Linked DNA regions of Homo sapiens: region 2 is reported to be linked to region 1. The links are microRNA targets in miRTarBase. Many come from high-throughput screens and were not tested one by one. Region 1 holds a microRNA gene; the other region holds the end of a gene's coding sequence.

Region 1 (10,109 bases):
AGAGGACACCCATTTTATAGATTATCCACATACTACAGATAAGGAAATAGAGGCACAGAGAGTTAAAATAACTTCCCCAGAGTCATGTTGCTACTTCTGTCCCCCAAGTGCAGAATAAGCTTCAGTCTGATGCAGAGTGAGAACCCACACTTTTAACCATTATGTTTCATCCACCATACTATTGTTGTGCTTGTTATTCTTATTTTTTTGACTGCCGCTTTCTTGTTTTCGACCCTCCTAGACTATATAAGCGCCTAGATCAGGGTCAGCAGACAGCCATGTCATACATGTATATTTAGGCTCTGGGTCTCTCAGTCTCAGTGGCAGCTACACAACTCTGCCCCTGTCGCGTGAAGGCAGCCATAGACAATGTATAAACGGATCAGTGCGGCTTGGTTCCAAGAAAACTGTATTTATGGATACTGAAATTTGAATTTCATATAATTTTTATGTGTCATGAAATATTATCCTTTTGATTTTTTCCAACCATTTAAAAATATAAAAACCATTCTTGGCTCCCAATCCATATGAAAACAGGCAGTGGGCCGGATCGGGCCTGTGGGCTGTAGTTTGCTGACCCCTGTCTTGGTGTGCGGGGATATGGAGCGTGATGTATTTATTTTAATCTGTGCCTTCTTAGGATTAGACTCGGTCCTGGCACTAAGTTGCCATTCATAAACGCTGATTGAATGAATTACTGTATACTCTTTCAGGTGTGCTGGATGACTTGGGGACACTGCTGCTTTTTGAGGAAAGAGTAAAAATTTTTCTGAGCAAGGGATGAGAATCCAATCTTTGTGGCAATGGCTGAGGAGAGGGCGGGAGCCTCCCTCTTGTGGGTCTTCATGGATGTTTGTAAGAGTAAAGAGAATTTTCATTTTTATGTAAAGTGTAGAGATCTATTTTTCACAAACAGACCTACAGAACGTGATTTGTAATAGGAAACAGATTTCCCTCCCCTTAAGATAAATGGAATGTCCCCACCTCCCAAACTGAGAAGAGAATTGTTTCCTCCTTGCAAAGGAAACAAATTGGATTCTCAAAGGAATAATCAGAAGTTTTAAAAATTGTCATAATAAGCAAGATATGGTTTCATGGATGATGAAAGGATGTTTGTCTTCGTTGGGAGTGGACATGAAGTTTTGGTTGGAGAGGCAGTTGGGCCCTTCTCCCTCCCTAATTCCTGCCCCTTGGCATTTTATCAGTGCCACATGGGAGAAGTGGCTTCTGCCTGAATGGGGTTGGTGGTCCCACTCTGGTCCCACTGTCAGACTGCATTCTCTTCCTTTCCAAATCTTCATCACTCTACTGAAGTAGGTCCCCATTCCTCAGCCAAGCTTCCTGACAGCTGCAGTTCATTTTGATCCATGGGAGAGGGTATTACAGATGGGAGAGTTGCCTGAGCAAAGTCATGGGGCTTGGAATGAGCCTGGTGAGTGCAGAGGATCTGCCTGGCTGTTTGGGGACACATTTCTAGGCAGCTGGGGCATTAGTTTGAGGCCTCTCATGTCAGTAAAGGTGGAGAACCATAGAGAGTGGAGGAGCCCAGTGCTAAGCACCTGGCCAAAGACAGCATCAGCTGTGTCTTGGGCCAAGGCCGGTTGCGTGGAGTCAACAAGAGTTGGTATATAAGTCAGAGTGGTTAAGGAGAGGGAGGACCTGCAGTCATTGGATCCAAAGGGTTTACCTCCCTAGTTCTTCCCTGGGTCCTGGAGACATGAAGGTGAACCCCCACAGCCCTTGCCCTTATTGCTTACAGGCTAATAAAGGAGACAAGCTGGGCACCTTCAAGTCCCTGAGAGTTTAGAGCAAAGAGCAGGGAGCTCAGACCATCCAGGCCTGTCCTCCAGAATCATTACTCCGTGGATAATACTTTGAAGATGTGTGAATTGGGGCAAGTTATTTAACCTCTCTGGACCTCACTTTCCCATAAATACTATTTTTGGCTTTCATAATAACATACGATGATGGTGATAATAAGAGTGTCCCCCTTATAGGATTCCTGTAATATTTCAGGGGAGATGAACAGTGCCTGATATGACATGATAAATCAATACGTGGGAAAACCATTATTAATTGTTATTTTTATAGTTTTCCAGCAGTACAACTTTTTAAAAAATTTATAAAATGCTTTGTCTTGCATTGGCTCACTTGAGCATCTCAAAAACCCTCTGAGGTTCTGCAAGTGCTGCTAACCCATTTTGCAGATAAGGGTGGTTTGCCCAAAACACACGAGTAGTAATGAAACTGGGACTGGAGGCCTGATGCTACAGCTGCTGTCCAGTGTTCCTCAACTCCGTGCCCTGTTGCCTTCTCTCATGGATATGGGGGCTGTGTCTGCTCTGTGGGTGATGCCCAGATGTGTAAGAAAGGTTCTCTGCTTTCAAGGAGTTTATATCTCATTCAAATTGGAAGAGCCTTGATCTGGAAATTGGAGAGTTCCGCCTGCAAGTGAGGGCCACTTCTGCTGTCTCCAGCAAGGAAAGACAGGCAGGAAAATGACTGGGAGTCTTATGTGGTGCCATCAGATGACATTCAGAATTTCCTTGGGTCGAACCTGCAGAGACCTGTCTCTGATTTCCTGCGTGTCACTCGGCAAATTCCCTCCATGTGTGAAATGAGCAATGAAGCTAACTCTCTGGTGCATGGTGTTAGCACCAAGTTGCATCACATTCCCCCCTCCGCCACTCCTCCTTCGCAACAGACCTTAACGTTATTCTGTGATTACTTCGCATCATCCTTCCCAAATGTGCATCAAATTAAAGAGTTATTAGGGCATGGCAGGACATGTTTATGGGGAAGAATTTCCTTTAAAGTCACAGCTCAGCCTGAACTCACTTTATTAGTGTTTATACAAAGTATGTAGCCTGTTCCAATGCAGTCCATGTTTATATTCCTGCAGCAATCATTGCATTCCTTGGGCTGTTCCTTCGTTTTCTTAAAGTGATTACTGCACCTATGTTAAAAGTTAATAGTGTATGTGCTCTGTGACTGGTTGGACTTGGGAGGTGGGCACCATTCAGAAAATGACACTTAACCAAGATGTGTCCTGCAAATAGCCATAGACTTAGAAGTGGTCTTCAGCCCAAGTGGACAGGAAGAAGGTCTCCTTAAGAACAAAGACATGGTGGGCAACCAGGCCCCATATGAGTATTTCCATTGTCACCCACTCCTGTTGCCGATATTTTGTGGCTCAAGCTGGGAATGACCATTTGTGTTGATCTGATCTTTGCCTGTTTCTGTGGTATAATTATTAATGACTTCCCCTTTAACTCACAAAAGTATTCAAGTTTGGATAATCATATGGTCATTCCAATTCTAACTGATACCCAGATTTACTGGTATAAGTGAAGTACATCAACTTTAGATCTCAAGCCATTGTCAATTAAGGGCAAATGTAACTCAGTTAAAACTGTCAATAAAGAGCTCAAGTTAACATCAGTCATTCAACAGATATTGATTTGTGCCTTTCATGTGCCAGGTATTGTGCTGAGCCTTAGGGATTCAAACATAAATCAGATATGGCCCTGGAGCCCAGTAAGTTGGAGCTTATTAGTTTAGCTAAACTTTTTGAGTATGTTACTAAAATTCTCTGACCAGGTCATTTCAATTTCTCTTTCACCCTTTAGGACTCTATATTTACTTGCTGCAAGTTGATTGCTAAATTTTCAGCCACTAATCCTTGTTCATTTGGTACTTCTCAGCTTGTGACCATAGACAGGTGTCTTAATCTCCCTGTGCCTCTATTTGTTCAATCATAAAATGGGACTAATAAGTAGCATCAACCTCATAGGCTGGTTGTGAGGATTAAAAAAGGCCCCAAATGTGAAGTGTTTAGCATAGTCCTTGGCACATGGTAAACACTCATTGTAGATTGGCTCCTGCATAGTAAATAGCAGAAAGTTATTTGGACCTTAATGTTGGTTGGGTGCAGCATTTGTACCTCTATTGACCGGAGTTAAGTGGCCTTCTTAAAAACATTGCTTAAGGTAATATGTGTTAGGATCCAAAGCCAGTGAGAATTATTGTGACCCTAGGGGATCAGTTTATTTTCCTCCTTTTAAAGATGAGGAAGGAAAATTTTACAAAGTCATGCTCTGGATTATCATGGATGAAGATCATGGATGCTTAACTTGGGCCATTCTTTCCTACTATGCCGTATTGCTAGGTGTATCAGTTAGCATAGACAAGGCTAAGCTGCAGCAACAAATAAGCCCAGATATATCAGTAACAAAACAATATAAAGCTGTATTTCTTCCTCTTCCTCCCACCCACCCAGTCCAGTAGAGCTGGTCTGGGTGGTGGTAGGTGGCTTATGATCCATATTGTCACTTAGGAACCCAGGCTGCTTTCCTCTGGGGGACCCCTCCATTTATGACACATGATCTCTACATGCCATGAAGACAAGAAAGGGAAGGAGAGTGTCATGCTTGCAGGATGTTTTATAGCCTTGCCTGGAAATGGCACGTATTATTTCCACCCACATTCCTTTTCTTCAGAAATCAGCCACATGGTCCCACTTAGATTCAAAGGGCACAGGAAATTTAATCTTGTTGTTTGCCTAGGAGGAAAATGGAACAGTTTGGTGAACACAGAGCACTATCCTTGCCATACCGTATTCCCTACATTTCTTGCCACATTTCCAAAGGTTGGCCCCAGTCTCTTCTAGGATTTGTTTCCTGCCTCCCGGTGATTGGAGGAGCCATTTTATCATGTGCTCTCCTATGCAGTGCAGGGAAGTGTTTTGAGAACAGGCCTTGCAAGGAGTTTGGAAGGGTTTGAGATTTCTGGGCATGATAAGGGAAATAAAAGGTGAAACTTTTGGACTGATAGTCGCCACCTGGAGGTTAGTGCTGAGAAAAGAATACGTTGCCTTAAGTCATTACAGGAAGAATTTAGGAAGAATTTTTTATTTCTGAGTGTGTTGGCTGGGTTGTCCTCTGTGTGACAGGAAGGAAGCACTGTCTCTGCAGATGCTTTGATGTGCCTGAAGTGGATGAAGGAGATTTGGGGTGGAGCTGTGGATTTGACCAGGTGCACCTTTGTGTTAGAAGCACGGAGGTCCTGCCAACATCATCATCTTACTTGTGCTCACATTTTGCCTGAATAATAATCAGCCAATTGATGGTTACTTCTTGAGTACTTACTGCATGACCAGCCCTGGGCTAGAATCACTTTATACGTATCATCTCATTTAATTCTTGCAGTATCCTAGGAGGTAGGTACTGTGATTATGGCCATTTAAGATGGAGAAACAGAAGCTTAGGGATGAGTTAAATAACCTGCCTAAAATCATGCTCTATTTGCTAAGATTTGAGCCCAGGCTATCTGATTCTAGGGCCTGCCACCTTAAGCGCTATGTTTGGCAGCAGGGATCTCAAACTCTGATGCGAAAAAAGATTAAGCAGGTAACTTGAGTGAGGGAATTGGATCAGGTGGACTGGTGAATTGCAGGCATGTACCTTATGCAAAGTGGGCAATTGCCTCTTAGTACCAGCTTATGATGGCCACTAAAATCCATTGTTATTTGATGGACTGACCTTTGGAGACAAGCCAGAATTGTAGATTTGTATTTGAAATGCTCCCAAATTGGCAATTAATTTGCATATGTGAAAATCACAGTGAGAACCAGACTACGCAGGTCTGCAGGCCAGAACTCACCGGTGGGCTACCAGTTTGCAAGTTCGTCTCTGCTGTTCCCAGTAAAGAGCTAGTTGTACGTTTTGTTTGTTTGTTTGTTTGTTTGTTTTTGAGCATGGAGCTGAACTGAGCAAAACAGGGGCAGGGAGTCCTCCTGGTGCAAGGGATGAAGGAAAAGAGACCCCATGCCCAATACTCCTCTTTACATGCCCTCACCATGACCACATCCAACCACCCGGGTTGCCCCTCTGTTTGGCCCATTCTTCTCCCTGCAGGTAGCTGTCTGCACAGGGCTGGCTGCAAGCTTTTGCAGGTGTAAAATTATATATGCGAGAGTGTTGCCAAGCCAAAAATTTAGCCCAGAGAGGCTTAGTTCCCAAACAACTGAGGTAGTGTGAAGCCAGTTTTTAAAATCAAATTCAGCTCATTTCTTTCCCAAATGCGTGTATGTTTTTAAACTTGCATGTGGTTATGTAACAGATGAGAACGAAGTGCAAAAATCAGAATAGTTAATAATGCCTCCTGTGGTGTGAGTCTGGAGAGGTAAAGCATGAGATGGGAGCCCTATAAGGGTGGCCCAAAGGGAAACACTGCTCTCCTTGACCTGGTAGGAAGGTGATTTGATGGTTTTCAAACACATGCTGTTTCTCTCTTTCATCAGGGTAGCTGGGTGGGTGGCATTAGGTCCTTTGGACTGGGGAGAGGAGACAGAGGAAGACACCCATTAGGACCGCCTGATGTGAGCAGTTTCAGAGGTCTGCCCTTGGGCTCATCAAAAAGCATCTTCCGGCCAGGCACGGTGGCTCACGCCTGTAATTCCAGCACTTTGAGAGGCTGAGGTGGGTTTGAGGTCAGGAGTTTGAGACCAGCCTGGCCAACATGGTGAAACCCTATCTCTACTAAAATTAGCCAGGCATGGTGGTACATGCATGTAATCCCAGCTACTCGGGAGGCTGAGGCAGGAGAATCCCTTGAACCCAGGAGGTGGAGGTTGCAGTGAGCCGAGATTGCACCACTACACTCCAGACTGGGAGACAGAGCGAGACTCTGTCTCAAAAAACAACCCCCAAAACCAAAAAGCATCTTCCTTTGGCTAAATGGCTAAAATTCCAGAGTCTTGAATGGCTTAAACTCTGCATGGTCACTTTATCTATGGGGAGAGTCTTAGGTTAACTGGACTCCTTTTTTCAGTGGTTTTTTTTGGAAGGTAGGAGGTATATTGAATAATACATGTTTACTCCAGAAAACATTGATAATACTGATAAGCAAAATGTAAAATGTTTAAAAAAAAAAAACCCCGTTTCTCCACCCCGAGAAACCTAGTGTACATTTTTCTGAGTGTCTCCATGAGGCCTTCATCCAAGGTGTCTGGAGGAAGTTGGGGAGTATCCTCTTCAAGGTCCTTTGGGAGACAAGGCAGACACACAGGAAACAGGCAGCAGCAAGGCAACGTGATGAAAGACCAAAATGAGTTGTGCAGAGAGAGGGTAAATGATCCAGAAGTTCAGAAGTTCAGGGAAGGGAGAAGCCAGCACGAGATGGAGCAGCTGGGGGAGGCTGCAGGGGGAGTGTGGGGTGTCTGTGCTATGGCAGCCCTAGCACACAGATACGCCCAGAGAAAGCCTGAACGTTGGGCGTATCTGTATGCTAGGGCTGCTGTAACAATGTACCACAAACTGGGTGCCTTACAACAGCAATCATCCTTTCAGACTTCTGGAGCCTCGCAATCTGAAATTGAGGTGTCATCAGGGCCAGGCTCCTTCTGAAATCTGCAGGGGAGGGCCCTTCCTTGCTCCTTCCTGGCTCCTGGGCTTGCCAGCAGCCCTTGGCATTCCTTGGTTTGTAACTGCATCACTCCAGTCTCTGCCTCTGTTGTCACACGGCACTATACCTGCATGTCTGTCTCGTCGTCTTTTTATTATTTTTCAGAGACAGGGTCTTGCTCTGTCACTCTGGCTGGAGCAGTGCAATCATAGCTCACTGCAGCCTCTGCCCCCCTGGGCTTAAACAATCCTGCCACCTCAGCCTCCTGAGTATCTGGGACTATAGGCAAGTACCACCATGCCTGGCTGGTTTTCTCTTTTGTAGAAATAGGGTCTTGCTATGTTGCCCAGGCTGGTCTCAAACTCCCTTCTGGCCTCAAGTAATCCTTCTGCATCAGCCTCCCAAAGTGCTGGGATTATAGGTGTGAGCCACTTTGCTCAGCCCTGTCTCCTCTTCTAATAAGGACACCAGTCCTATTGGATTAGGGTCCACCCTAATGACCTCAATTTAACCTGATTACATCTGCAAAGACCCTACTTTCAAATACGATCACACTCATAGGTAGCTGGGGTTAGGACTTCAATATATCTTTTGAGGCACACAATTCAGCCCATAACAGAGCAGTAGGATTTAAATGGACGCAGGACTTTGAGGGCTTCTGAGGCCAGCATACAGACAGCAGGAACATATGTGCCAATGAAGTGCCTAGCACAGTTCCTGGATCTGATAGGTGCTCAATACATGTCTGTGGCTATAAAGAAGAAAGAATTAAATGAGGCAAGCTGAGGGCAGTAATGAGAACCCCCTTCTTATTGAGCTGTGGAATGAAATTGACATTTGGGGGAAATTAATCTGGCAGGATTGATGGCAGGGGAATGAGGCTGAGGGCTCTTAAATTGGTGGTTTCCTTGCTCGGCCCCTTTTATGGTTCCAGTCCCCAAGCATGTTGTCAGCCCCATAGATGCCTCACAGCCTGGACACCACCTGCCTCTGTGATCCCATTTGGTGTCACTCTGCTGCCGTCACCTGGACCTTTTTGTTTCCATTCTTCCACCTGGAAACGTCTCCCTTCAGCCTGTCCTTCAACTGGATCCTTCTTTTCCTTCTAGTCTCAGACCAAATCTCACTCTCTAAGAGAGGTTCTTCCTGGACACCCTAGGGAGGGCAGTGCCTTCACTGCCTCTCACCATATCTTTATTCTCTTCACCTCACCCTGTACTGTTTCCTAGCTATGCCCATATTGCAGTCTGTAGTCTCCTTGTTTATTTGTGGTGGCCTATCTCCCCCTGTGTTTTTTATTGTCATATAATGATAGCAAACTTCGTGGCTTAAAACAACAGGCATTCAGCACCTTCCATTTGTCTCGGCCCTCTGCTTCAGGGTTTCATAAGGCTGCACACAAGGGTTTGGTTGAGGTTGTGATCTCATCTCAAGGCTCAACTGGAGAAGGACCTGCTTCCAAGCTCTCAAGGTTATTGGGATAATTCAGTTCCTTGCAGTCTATTAGAAGGCTTCAGGTTCCTGCTGGTTGTCTTGAATTCTTGGTTGGTTGTGGGTAGAGGCTGCCTCCAGTTCCTTGGCATGTGGGCCTCCCAAACATGGCCACCTGCTTCATCACAGCCAGCAAGAGAAAGAGTCCTATAGCAAGACGGGCATTGCCGTCCCATGTAACATGTCACAAAGGTGACATCCGACCACCTTTTTTGTGTTGCATGGGTTAGAAGCAGGTCTCTAGGTTCTGCCCACTCAAGGAGAGGGGAAGGTGTTGATACTGGGGACCACCTTAGAATCTGTCTGCGGCATTCAGCAAAGAAATAAAAGTTCCTTAAAAGGAACTTCTTTGCTATTGTTTTACTGTCTATCCTTAGCCATCAGCATAGTGCCAGGTCTGGAGTAGGTGTTTAATAAAAGTTTGTTGTAGGAAGAAAAGAAGCAAGGAAAGGAGGGAGGGATTTTAAAAAAAGGAAAGGAGATGGGGAGGGAAGGAAGGAAGGAATTAAGGAAAGGAGAGAGAGGGAGGAAAGGAAAGAAGAAAATAAGGAAAGAAAAGAAGAAAGAAGGAAGGGAAGAAAGATCTGTGTTTCTCTTGAAACATGCTTTAACAGCCAAATAAATCTGCTGGCAGTTATCCTGAGGCAATGCCTCTGGGCTTTTATACATGCTGGGGTTTTTTTTTGTTTTTTGTTTTTAAACCTAAAATTCTTTTTCTCTCTCTTGAATATTCCTATGCCAACCTGAATATAGCCAACTCTTTCTTGAGGTCTCAATTAAAATGTCACCTGTTCCTGGATGCCTCCCCCGACCCTACACCCCAATTACTCCATACTCCTTCCTCCATACTCTTCTGTAAGCTTTTGTTTATGCCTCTGGCATAGTAGAGAGCAGGAGTCTATAAACGACAGCCCCTGGGCCAAATCCAGCCTTCAGTCTGTCTTCGTAAATAAAGTTTTATTGGCACACAGCCATACTCATTTATTTATATATTGTCTAAGGCTACTCTCACACTACAAAGCTGAGTTGAATAGTTGTGATAGAAAACATGACTGGCAGAACCCAAATTATTTACTATCTGGCCTTTAAAGAAAAAGGTTGCCAACCTATGGTATACAGCGTTTATCATAGTCTATGGTAATTACTCCTTTATTTCTTCCTCTCTAAACTCTGAGTTTCTTATGGGCAGAGACCACGCCACTATTGTTTATAGC
Region 2 (9,831 bases), not on the chromosome of region 1:
AGCGCAGCCGTGCACCGGCTCAAGAAGGACATCCGCCGCTGCCACCGTATGTCCCGCCGTCCCCTGCCCCGCCCGGACCCGCAGGGGGGCAGCCCCGGACTGCGCCCGCCCATTTCGCCCTTCTCGGAGACGGTGCGCATCATCAACCGCAAGGTGAAGCCGCGGGAGCCCAAGCGGAACCGCATCATCCTGAACCTGAAGGTGATCGACAAGGGCGCTGGCGGCGGGGGCGCCGGGCAGGGGGCCGGGGCGCTGGCCCGCCCCAAAGTCCCCTCGCGGAACCGCGTTATAGGCAAGAGCAAGAAGTTCAGCGAGAGCGTCCTGCGTACACAGATCCGCCACATGAAGTTCGGCGCCTTTGCGCTGTACAAGCCTCCGCCCGCCCCCCTGGTAGCCCCGTCCCCCGGCAAGGCTGAGGCCTCAGCCCCGGGCCCTGGGCTACTTCTGGCCGCCCCCGCCGCCCCCTACGACGCCCGCAGCTCTGGCTCCTCCGGCTGCCCCTCGCCTACACCACAGTCCTCTGACCCCGACGACACGCCCCCCAAGCTCCTCCCCGAGACCGTGAGCCCATCCGCCCCCAGCTGGCGCGAGCCGGAGGTGCTCGACCTGTCCCTCCCTCCCGAGTCGGCAGCCACCAGCAAGCGGGCACCGCCTGAGGTCACAGCTGCTGCCGGCCCGGCACCTCCCACGGCCCCTGAGCCCGCCGGTGCCTCCTCCGAGCCCGAGGCTGGGGACTGGCGCCCCGAGATGTCACCCTGCTCCAATGTGGTCGTCACCGATGTCACCAGCAACCTCCTGACGGTCACAATCAAGGAATTCTGCAACCCTGAGGATTTCGAGAAGGTGGCTGCTGGGGTAGCAGGCGCCGCTGGGGGCGGTGGCAGCATTGGGGCGAGCAAGTGAGGGGGCTCCACCAAGGAGGGGGGCTTGGGGGGGCCCTCCTGCCCGAAGTCATACTCTTGCTCCCACCCCACCCTTGCCCCCAGCCCTCTCTCCCTGTGCTTTGCTTGTCTCAAATGGCTCGGTGTTGACCCAGGGATGGGGCTGGGTAGTTGGGGTCCCAGAAAGCCGGGGGTAGGGGCCACCCTGGAATGGGGCAGGGGAAGGGCACACCCCCTGCCCATGCATGGTAGCCCACTGGGTGGTTTCTGGAAAGCCCTAGAAACTAGGGTTCCTCTGCCCCTTCCACATCCCACCTGTCTCTCTAGCTTGCTTCCTGCTCTCCTGTGCGGCGTCTGATTTCTCGGTGCTAACCTGGCAGCTGTGGGGCCCTTAGGAGCCCCCCACCGAGGGTGGACACAGTCCCTTTCCTTCCTGCAGATGCCTAGGCAGGAGGAGGGCTTCCTGCCTGTTTGGCAAAGTCCCAGGCAGAGGCCAAGGATGAGGCCTGACTCGGCTCCTCCCTCCACATCAGCCAGGGCATCAGAAGTTGGGCCAGGGCGGGGTCTTCCCTGCTCGATTTTGGACGAGGCCTAAGTAGACCCCCTATGCCCTGCCCCAGCCCTGGCTCTTTCCTAACCCCCTCAACGGTGGGAGGAACTGGCAGAGGGTGCGCCTGGCCACAGCCTCCCCGCATCTAAAGGCCCCTTCAGTTCTTGACCAAAGGTGCTACGAGAACCTGCCGTGGAAACTTCCAGTTGTGCGTCTGCCCCACTCGCTGTGTTTGTCCGTGGGTTCATACATGCATTGGGTGCTAGGCCCCAGGCTGCCGGGTGGCACCCTTTACAGTTCCTTTGAACAGGGGCATTGAAGGCCTGGACTGCCTCTCGCCTCAGTAGGCCTGGGGACCAGGCTTGGGTCTGGAGGTTTGCTGTGGAAGTCACCAGGCCTCCCCTCCTGGCCCAGGTGTGCTGGGGGCACCGTGCCCCCCACCCCCCTGCCCTCCTCAGGGTGGTCAGCCCAACCTGTCGGACCTTCACTTCACATCATGGTGGGGACCGAGATAGAGAGGGAGACCCCATTCCAAGCTCCCTCTTCCTCCGGGTGTTTGGGGAGGATGCTGAAGAATCCATTCCCGAGGGCCTCCCGGCTTGTCCCAGCCCCTCTTTTGCTTCTGACCACGGAGGCTTTCTCACAGCCCAGCCTGCCTGAAGCAAAGGAGGCTCCCGTGTCCTGGGCAGCTTCTGTTTCCCTCTGCTGCCTGGGAGCTGAGGCACCCGTGCCAGTGGCAGAGGCCACAGCCCCAGCCTTAGGCCAGGCCCTGGGAGGGCAGGCAGGCAAAGGGGAGACCAGAGGGTCTGTGTTCTCCAGGAGAATGAGGGTGTTGGTCCCAGAATTGGGACCGGGGCCCCGCTGGCCAGCCCTGGGCCACTTCCCGGGTCTCCATTGTGCGTGGGTGGCGTGTTCCAGGCGTGGCTGGAGCTGGCTTCCTGGCTGTGCTGCCATGGGCCCCTCCCTCAGAAGCACGTTGGCAGGAGGCCGATCAGAACCCTAGCGCCTTTGGTCCTAAGAATGGGAGGCTGCCTTCCTTCCCAATCTCCCTGCCAGGGCCCACAGCGTGGCCCTAGCCCTCCCCTCCCCGGGATGTAGAACGGGGACCCTCGCAGGGTTGGGGCGGGGGCTGATACTCCTCGGCCCCTCCCTACCCTGCCCTGTGTGTTGGCTTTGTGGCCGTCCAAGTGCCAATTGGCTTTTCGCCCAAATAAGGGCTGGTATTTCTCCTCTGTCCTTGGAGGTGATTTCCCCCTGACCCCCTCCCCCAGGTGAGTGACCACCTGGGTGCCAGTTACAGGTGTTTCCAGAGACCATAGAAATGTGTTTTCCTGAGAGTTCGTGTCATTCGTGACTTTTTTGTAAAGAAGTTGTGTTTTCAGAGGTGATTTTATGACAGGAAAGTGAAAGAATTAGTTTTGCAAAAAAACAAAAACAAAAAAAGAGGAAAAAAAAAAGAAATAGAAAAAAATATTGTGGGATTCCTATGGGGGGGTGGCGGGGGAGAAAGAGCTATTTAAGAAAAAATAGTAACGCAGTGATTGCACAGGTGAGGTGGCAATGTCAGGATGGGGCGGAGGCCTGGGCCCAGCTGGCAGGTCCCCTGGCATCGCAGGCACTGTGGAGAGGGCCTGGACCCAGATCTCCACACCCGTGCTTGCTCAAAGGGAAGGACAACAGCGGGCCCCCGGGAGCTAACCCAAGCTGCAGGTCCCGGCAAGCTGAGGTTTGGGAGGGTGGGGGTTGTCACTGGTGATTTTCTCCAGGGGGCTGGTGAGTGGGCAGTTTGGTTTCTTGCCCCCTTCTGTTCCTTTCCCAGTTGTTGGGCCATCTGGTCCCCACCACCGCCACCCTATGGGGGAGACCTCCCTCCCCACGGGTCACCCTAAAGCCCACAACCTCTCTGAGCCTCCCTGGCCTGAAAGGGGATGCAGGCTTCAGGAGGCAAGAAGCTGGGCCCCTGGGGGTGGCTGGGGAGAGGGAATGCATTTCCCTTGCCACAGGTGGTCTGCTTCTGCTGGCCTGAGCTCCAAGTGGAGCAGCCCGGGCCAGCCTTGGTGCATGAAGAGGCACCAGGCACACCGCCTTGAGGTGGGCAGTGCCCATGGGGGCCCGAGTGGATGGGACCGAGGGTGAGTGGAGCCTCCTTCCTCCCCTCTCTAGTACCCCCGCCTCCCACACACTTGCACGGATCGGCCTCCCTTGGGAGATCAGCCTCCATGGGCCCCTCGTCCACCCTTGCTGCTTTCCATTTGCCTAATTACCAAGCAGAAGTTGCAATCTGGTTTGCTTTATTTTTGTATGTGAAATAACCCCCAAAGCCCAATCTCCTCCTACGTTCAATATTGGTTGGGGCATCCGTCATCTCCCCTTAAGTGCGCCCCCTCCCCACCCAAGTATCATAGGAAACCGGTGAGGTCTGGTGTCTCTGGTTTGAGACGGTAAGTTGGGACCCATCCCTGTCTGGGTGCCCACTCTGACCTTTAGTTTGCCCTTCTGTGAAATGGGTGTATTGGGTAGCAAGCCCTCTTCAGAAAGCGCTGCTGGTGTCAGAGCAGCTGCCCAGTACCAGGTGGGGGGTCAAGGTTGCTGGTACTGGGGCCCCCAGCTGCCCACAACCCCTCTTTGTTCTCACCCTGCAAAGGGGTCAAGGTCAAAATGAGCCTCATCCTTCCTATGATCTGGGAAGAGGTGATGATCAAGTCCCCAACTTCAGTGTGAGGTGGACAGAGTTGGGGGGATGGCCCCTTTTTGAAGAGGTGAAAATGGTTTTGGAGAAGCGCAGCTGCTTCACTGGGGGAATGCGGCAGGGACTGGGGCCCAGGATGCTTTGGCCTATGGGGAAAAGCCCTTTAAAAGGCAGGGCCCAGGCCCTGGAGCCAGCACAAGACTGGCCTCGAGCCCCTGAGCCAGGAGGTCCTGGAGGAGAGCCAGGCCGGTGGGCCCGCCCAAGGCTGGAGGGTCAGCCCCAACAGGGAGCTGGGTTGGCCAGGGGGCTGGACTGCTACCAGCCTCTCTGGCCTATGGGGACCCAAGAGGACACATCCCCCTTTTGCCCACTCTTCTGTGTCATTTTGTTGTTTTGGTTTGTGGTGGTTTTTCTTTTTTCTTTTGTTTTTCTTTTTTCTTTCTTTCTTTTTTTTTTTTTTTTTTTTTTTTTTTGCACTTCGCCCACACAGGACAGTGGAGCCCCACCTGGTCAGTTCCACTTCCGGGCTCCCATGCACTTGCCCAAGGCGGCCTCTTTGGGACGGGGATGGTTTGAGGAAACACTTTTAAAGAAAAAAGGAAGACATTGAAAGGTTTTAGTTTCTTCCCTATCTGCATGTCCTCTCATATAGAAAGCCCAGAATTAGGGGCTAGAACTCCAGGAGAGGGTCTCCCCGACTCATCTCTTGCTGACGGTCACCAGGATGCAGAAATAGGGAGATGGTTAGTGGGGGCCAAAGATGCCCCCTCCCAGGCCTTCGTGGTTCCCTCCTCCGCCCCCTGCAATCTTTGGAGGAGTCAGTGCCTCACTCCAGCAGTGAGTGCCTACTGTATGCAGGTAGTCAGCCAGGCAAAGAGAGACTAACGGTCTCATGGGGGAACCCTCTTGCGGGAGGCCGGGTAGCTGGAGCGAAGCGTTCCGGCTGCCCTTGCTGCTGGGTGGAGTGGAGAGGGAGACTTCTTTTTGTTGGTTTTAATTTAAAAACACAAAGGCCTAAAGAAATACGTATCTTATAATTTTTTTAATTTTTGAGACGTTCATTTAATGAATTGTGCACGAATGAATTCTATATATATAAAATATACATATATAGCTCTATATTTGGGGAGGGGCACTGTCTCTTTTTTCTCTCATTTTTAAAATGAAGTGTTGTTGCCTTTGTATGTGGTTCAACCATCCAGCTCCCAGCTGGCTAAACTTTGCCTCCAGTGGTCAAAGATGGGAAAAGAGTGGGGTTGGCAGGAGATGGAAAACGGAGGTGCCGCCCCAGCATGGGGGGCAGGTCCCCCAGTCCACCCTGCCCCTCCCCCTGTGGAGAAGACGCTTAGTTGGGGGTGTGGGTTTGGGCTCCATTCTGGATTCGGCGGTTCCGGGGGAGGGGTGGGTCTGTGCCGATTACTCTGTCTTGTACGTTTGTTCTGCTGCTCTTCAATATTGTATCAACGCCAGGAAAGGGGGGTGAAAAGCCTCTTTTACCCCCCAAATAAATTGTCACATTCCGAAGCTGAGGCCTAGCCCCTAGGTTGGGGTGTGTCTGTGTCTTCTTCCAGCTGTGACTGGCTTTTCAAAAGTAGCAGGCCCATGTCCCTCCAGTGACAGGTGAAGAGGGGGAAGCCCTGTCCCACCGCTGGCACTCACTTGCTTCCCGGTTCCTATCTCCCACACTCCCCCAGCTCACATGTGCCTCAGTGGGAAAAAGAGATGCCTGCTGCTTCTTGGACCCTTGAGAATAACGGGTAGGTGAGAGTGGGAGGATGGAGGTCTCATCACTGCCTGTCCCTCAGTGGGAATCACAGCACCCGCAGAGAGGAAGGGGCCTCTGGGGTTGTGGCCCCAAAGCCCAGAAGGGAGCAGGCCGGAATGGGGCACCAGCTGCTCTTGCCATTGGGTCCTACAGTTTGGCACCCAACCGTGCCATAAAGTCCGATATCACATTCGGATAATGAGAATGGTGGTCTTCGAGTTTGTTTTCTGGGTGCCATGTGCCTTCTCTCTTGAGGTGACGCACCCTCTCCCCACATAGGTGGGCTTAAAAGCAGCAGCCCCAGGCAAACTTCCATGCCTTCCCCAGGTGCCTGGCGTTCCACCTGCAAGCTCCCGATGACTCCCGTGGCCACCTGTTTGCCAGGCCTCGGACAGGTAGCGCTCTGGTCTCCCCTTCCTCACCACCCCACCTCCTGTCTGGCCTCTCTAGTATCTCCCCGCCCTGCAGCCTGGGGTCCTGAGCGCTTCTGCTTTGGCAGCGGCTCTGGCCTGGTCCACCAGTCTCCATCCTGGCCTGCACCTGCCCCCTGTGTCTTCCACACCAGTGCCATAGGGGTCAGGGAGGCTACCGCCCCAGCGCCACGGCCTCTAGGCAGGCAGGAGTGTGATCTAGTTCCTTGTCATGCCTGGTCCCGGCGCTGGGGATATTCAATGCAGACAGACCCTGCTGTTAATTTCCAGGCTGCAATGCCCAGAGCCCCCACAGCTCAACACAGCCTGTGTGCCATCTGCAAATGGCTGAGGTGCAAAGTCTCCCCTAGCCTCCACCTCCCCGCCCCCCTCCTCCTTGCCTCCCTTTGCCTGAAGCCCCTCCCCTGCCACCTGCCCTCCCGGGCCCTGCCCTGTCTCCTCCCTCGGTATTGACCTGCGGTTTTGTCCTTCCCCCTTCCTAAGGACAGGGCTGGGTCTTCATCCCCTCTCTGCCCACACCTCAGTGTCTGGCACATGGTAGGCCCAGATCATCTCCGTCACCAAGCTCAGTCCTCTTCCTATGCTGGCTGGGACAGTGAGGCTTGGGAGCGGCTGAGAGGTAGACCTGGGGCTCAGTGCAATCAACCAACTGCCTCTGAGCATTACCAGTGGGCCTGGCCTGGGCCAGGCAGGGGCCAGCAGGACAAATGGGAGTGTGTCCCTGTCCCGGATACGGGGCTGCCACTGGGCAGGCAGGTGGGAAGGGACCCACAGTGAAGCACCCACAGGGCAGGGGAGGCCAGCCAGTAAGCCAGGGCTGGTCCTGCTCAGTGCCACTGCTGCACCTCACGGCCACCTCCTTGTCATCTTGAGCACCTGCCTTGGTGTTCTACTCCCAGAAAGCCCTCATTCGTACTTATTTTTTTGAACCCCAAATTATTAGCGCACCTACTATCGGCCAAGCCCTGGTGAGCACGTCACTGGCCCTAGCCCATGTCCCTAACCCGTGCCCAGCGAGCCCATGAGTTATGAGCAGATGTCATGGGGAAGAGGAGGCCAGAGAGGCGAAGTCATTAACTTGTTCATTTGTCCAAGGGGGCACAATTGGAGCAGGGGAGTCGGCATTCACCCCAGCCCCATCTGTTTGCCCCTGAACCCCAAGCTCTTGGGAATGAGGACATGGGGCAGCCCATGTGAGGCAAGTGCAGGCCGAAATTAGTCACCGTGTTCCTGATCACAAGTCCTGCCATTGCTAAGCAGGTAAGTCTCCTTATTAGTTGAGGGTTAATGAGTGAGGAGGCTGTGGCAACTTCTCGAGGAACTGAACAGTTTGTGAAGAGGACTGGGCAATACCAAGCAATTGCCCGAGAGCGAGCTGACTCGGCTTAGAGAGGGGGGTGCCTGCCTGGCCCCCACCCCTTCCTTGTCCTATTCCTGGGCCTCCTCCCAGGGTTAAGGGTCAGCGGTGGGATGAAGCTCAGGGGTGGGGCAAGCCAAGGAGTAGGGGGATGGGATGGGATGTGGATGACTATTTTTGCAAAATTACCTGGTTACGTTTGTTTGTTTGTGACAGAGTCTTGCTCTGTAGTCCAGGCTGGAGTGCAGGGGTGCAACCTTGGCTCACTGAAACCTCCGCCTCCTGGGTCTGGGTTCAAGCAATTCTCCTGCCTCAGTCTCCCGAGGAGCTGGGATTACAGACACATGCCACCACGCCCAGCTAATTTTTGTATTTTTAGTAGAGACGGGGTTTCACCATGTTGGCCAGGCTGGTCTTGAACTCCTGACCTCGTGATCCACCTGCCTTAGCCTCCCAAAGTGCTGGGATTACAGGCATGAACTACCATGCCCAGCCCTTGGTTGCTTTTTAAAAGCTAAAAGTTGAAATTTTTTGGTCCATGTCAAGCCATGCCTGGAGTGAATAGGGAGGTGACAGAGGCCACATCAAATTGCCCAGCCCCCCCCCAAGCCAGCTAACAGGTCTGCGAGCTGATTCTGTGCCCTCTTTGTTCAGGCTGCTGGCTTCTGGGAGGACAGACTTCAAAAAGGCCTGGTGGCCTGCAGAGGCCGAGCACAAGGACACCTGATCCACAGCGGTGGGGTCACAAAGGAAGCAGCAGGGGGAGGCCCCGTCCTGGCCTCCAGACATCCACACGCGCTGAGCATCAGCCAGGGAAGCTGTGAGCTCAGGAGGGAGTCCCAGGAGGGACAGAGGCCACTCCAGGGCGAGACTCGAAATGACCCTGGCGAGGATAATGAGGCCTGAGGCAGTGGGGACAACAGAAAGTGGCCAGAGTGGATGGGATGTTTGGAATATTTAGAATTTGGTGAGGGACTGCCTTTGAGAGCTTGTATAAAAGCCTTTTCGAAGAAGCACCTGGGTATGTGGTATAGGCAGAGGAGTGAGTGAGTGCATTCTTCTCAGGTGGAGAACCTGGTGGAGGACACAGCTTCCAGGGACACATTGGGAGTAAATCAGCCATAGGGTCCTGGAGGGATTTTCATCTATGGATTTGAGGCTCAGAGCGAGCTCCTGCCCACCCAGGCACTGCTGGACAAATCTGCTGAAGGGTCTTTGTCCCTTAGTGCACCTCATCTCTGAGATGACTGGTCACCAGCCATCCTGGAAGCACCACCACGGACATAGGTGCTTAGCTCTGGAAGCCACTGGAAATTCCAGGGGTTAATGTCCAGCCCCTTGCCGCCCGCCTCTACCCCATCAATCTCATACCTTTTATCTCCATGAGCAGCCCCCATGAGGTGAGGCTGGGGAATGATTAACCCCATTGGATAGGTGCAAGGCGAGGCCTGAGAGTTGTAGGGTGGGGATGCTCTGCAAAATCACTCAGAGGCAGAGAGAATGGAACCCAGGTCTGAGGCATGAAAAGATAGAACCTTCTGTCCTGCTAACCTTCTGTCTATACTTAAAGACTGGGTAAAACATAAACATTCTTTCAAATACCCAACTGAGTTTCCGAGATTAAAAAAAAAAAAAAAATCCCCAGGGACCAAAAACAAAGAGAAAAGCCAAAAATCACAGTGACAAGCAGGTGTTTATTCTTTGGCTGTCCTACAGGGTGGGCCTATGGGTGGCAAAGGGAGGCAGGAGATGGGCGTGGGAGGTGGTGGCTTTTGCTAATGTTGGTAACCAAAGGAGCTTGGATTTTATACCTGTGGAGGGAGGGATAGGAGACAAGGCCTGGGACCCTTGCCAGCAGAAATTTGGAACCAGAATAAAACTGGACCCATATCCTCAATGAAAAAAGCAAATGGTGGGGAAAAATCACCCTTTCACAAAGGGAAAAGACAAAAAAGTTGTAGTCTCATTTCTGGCTCGGCTGGAAAAAATTTGAAAAGAATGATCTCTTGAGAAATTTTAACTCTAGACCTTCACTAACACACATTTGAGGTTTGAATTTGTATTACCCATATGGTCCCAGGACTCCCAAGTATAGAAATTAATATAAGAAAAAAACCTGGGGCGAGTTACACCACAGACATGTGGCTACTAGTAGCAA

What was found. Region 1 holds the annotated microRNA hsa-miR-585-5p (CUAGCACACAGAUACGCCCAGA, at 7,236-7,257, shown strand). A microRNA usually pairs through its seed, bases 2 to 8, with sites in the 3' UTR of a target mRNA and lowers its output. Matches are read on the target gene's strand: a 7mer-m8 pairs with bases 2 to 8, a 7mer-A1 pairs with bases 2 to 7 and ends in A, and an 8mer does both.
Region 2: the mRNA of CBX6 is a reported target of hsa-miR-585-5p. Seed matches in the 3' UTR shown: 7mer-A1 at 1,247-1,253.

What each region holds. Positions count from the first base shown.
Region 1 is chr5:169,260,797-169,270,905 of GRCh38, reverse strand. MIR585 (microRNA 585) reads left to right here and starts at 7,212; the gene lies at 7,212-7,305. All of the region lies in intron 1 of SLIT3 (slit guidance ligand 3), which reads left to right.
Region 2 is chr22:38,857,281-38,867,111 of GRCh38, reverse strand. It overlaps CBX6 (chromobox 6), which reads left to right. Exons shown (of 5, transcript NM_014292.5): 5 at 1-5,690. The coding sequence ends at 903. Among named protein-coding and RNA genes, the nearest start is that of CBX6, 10 kb to the left of the region's middle. RefSeq lists enhancers at 373-1,184, 1,303-2,180, 2,181-3,060, 6,661-7,540.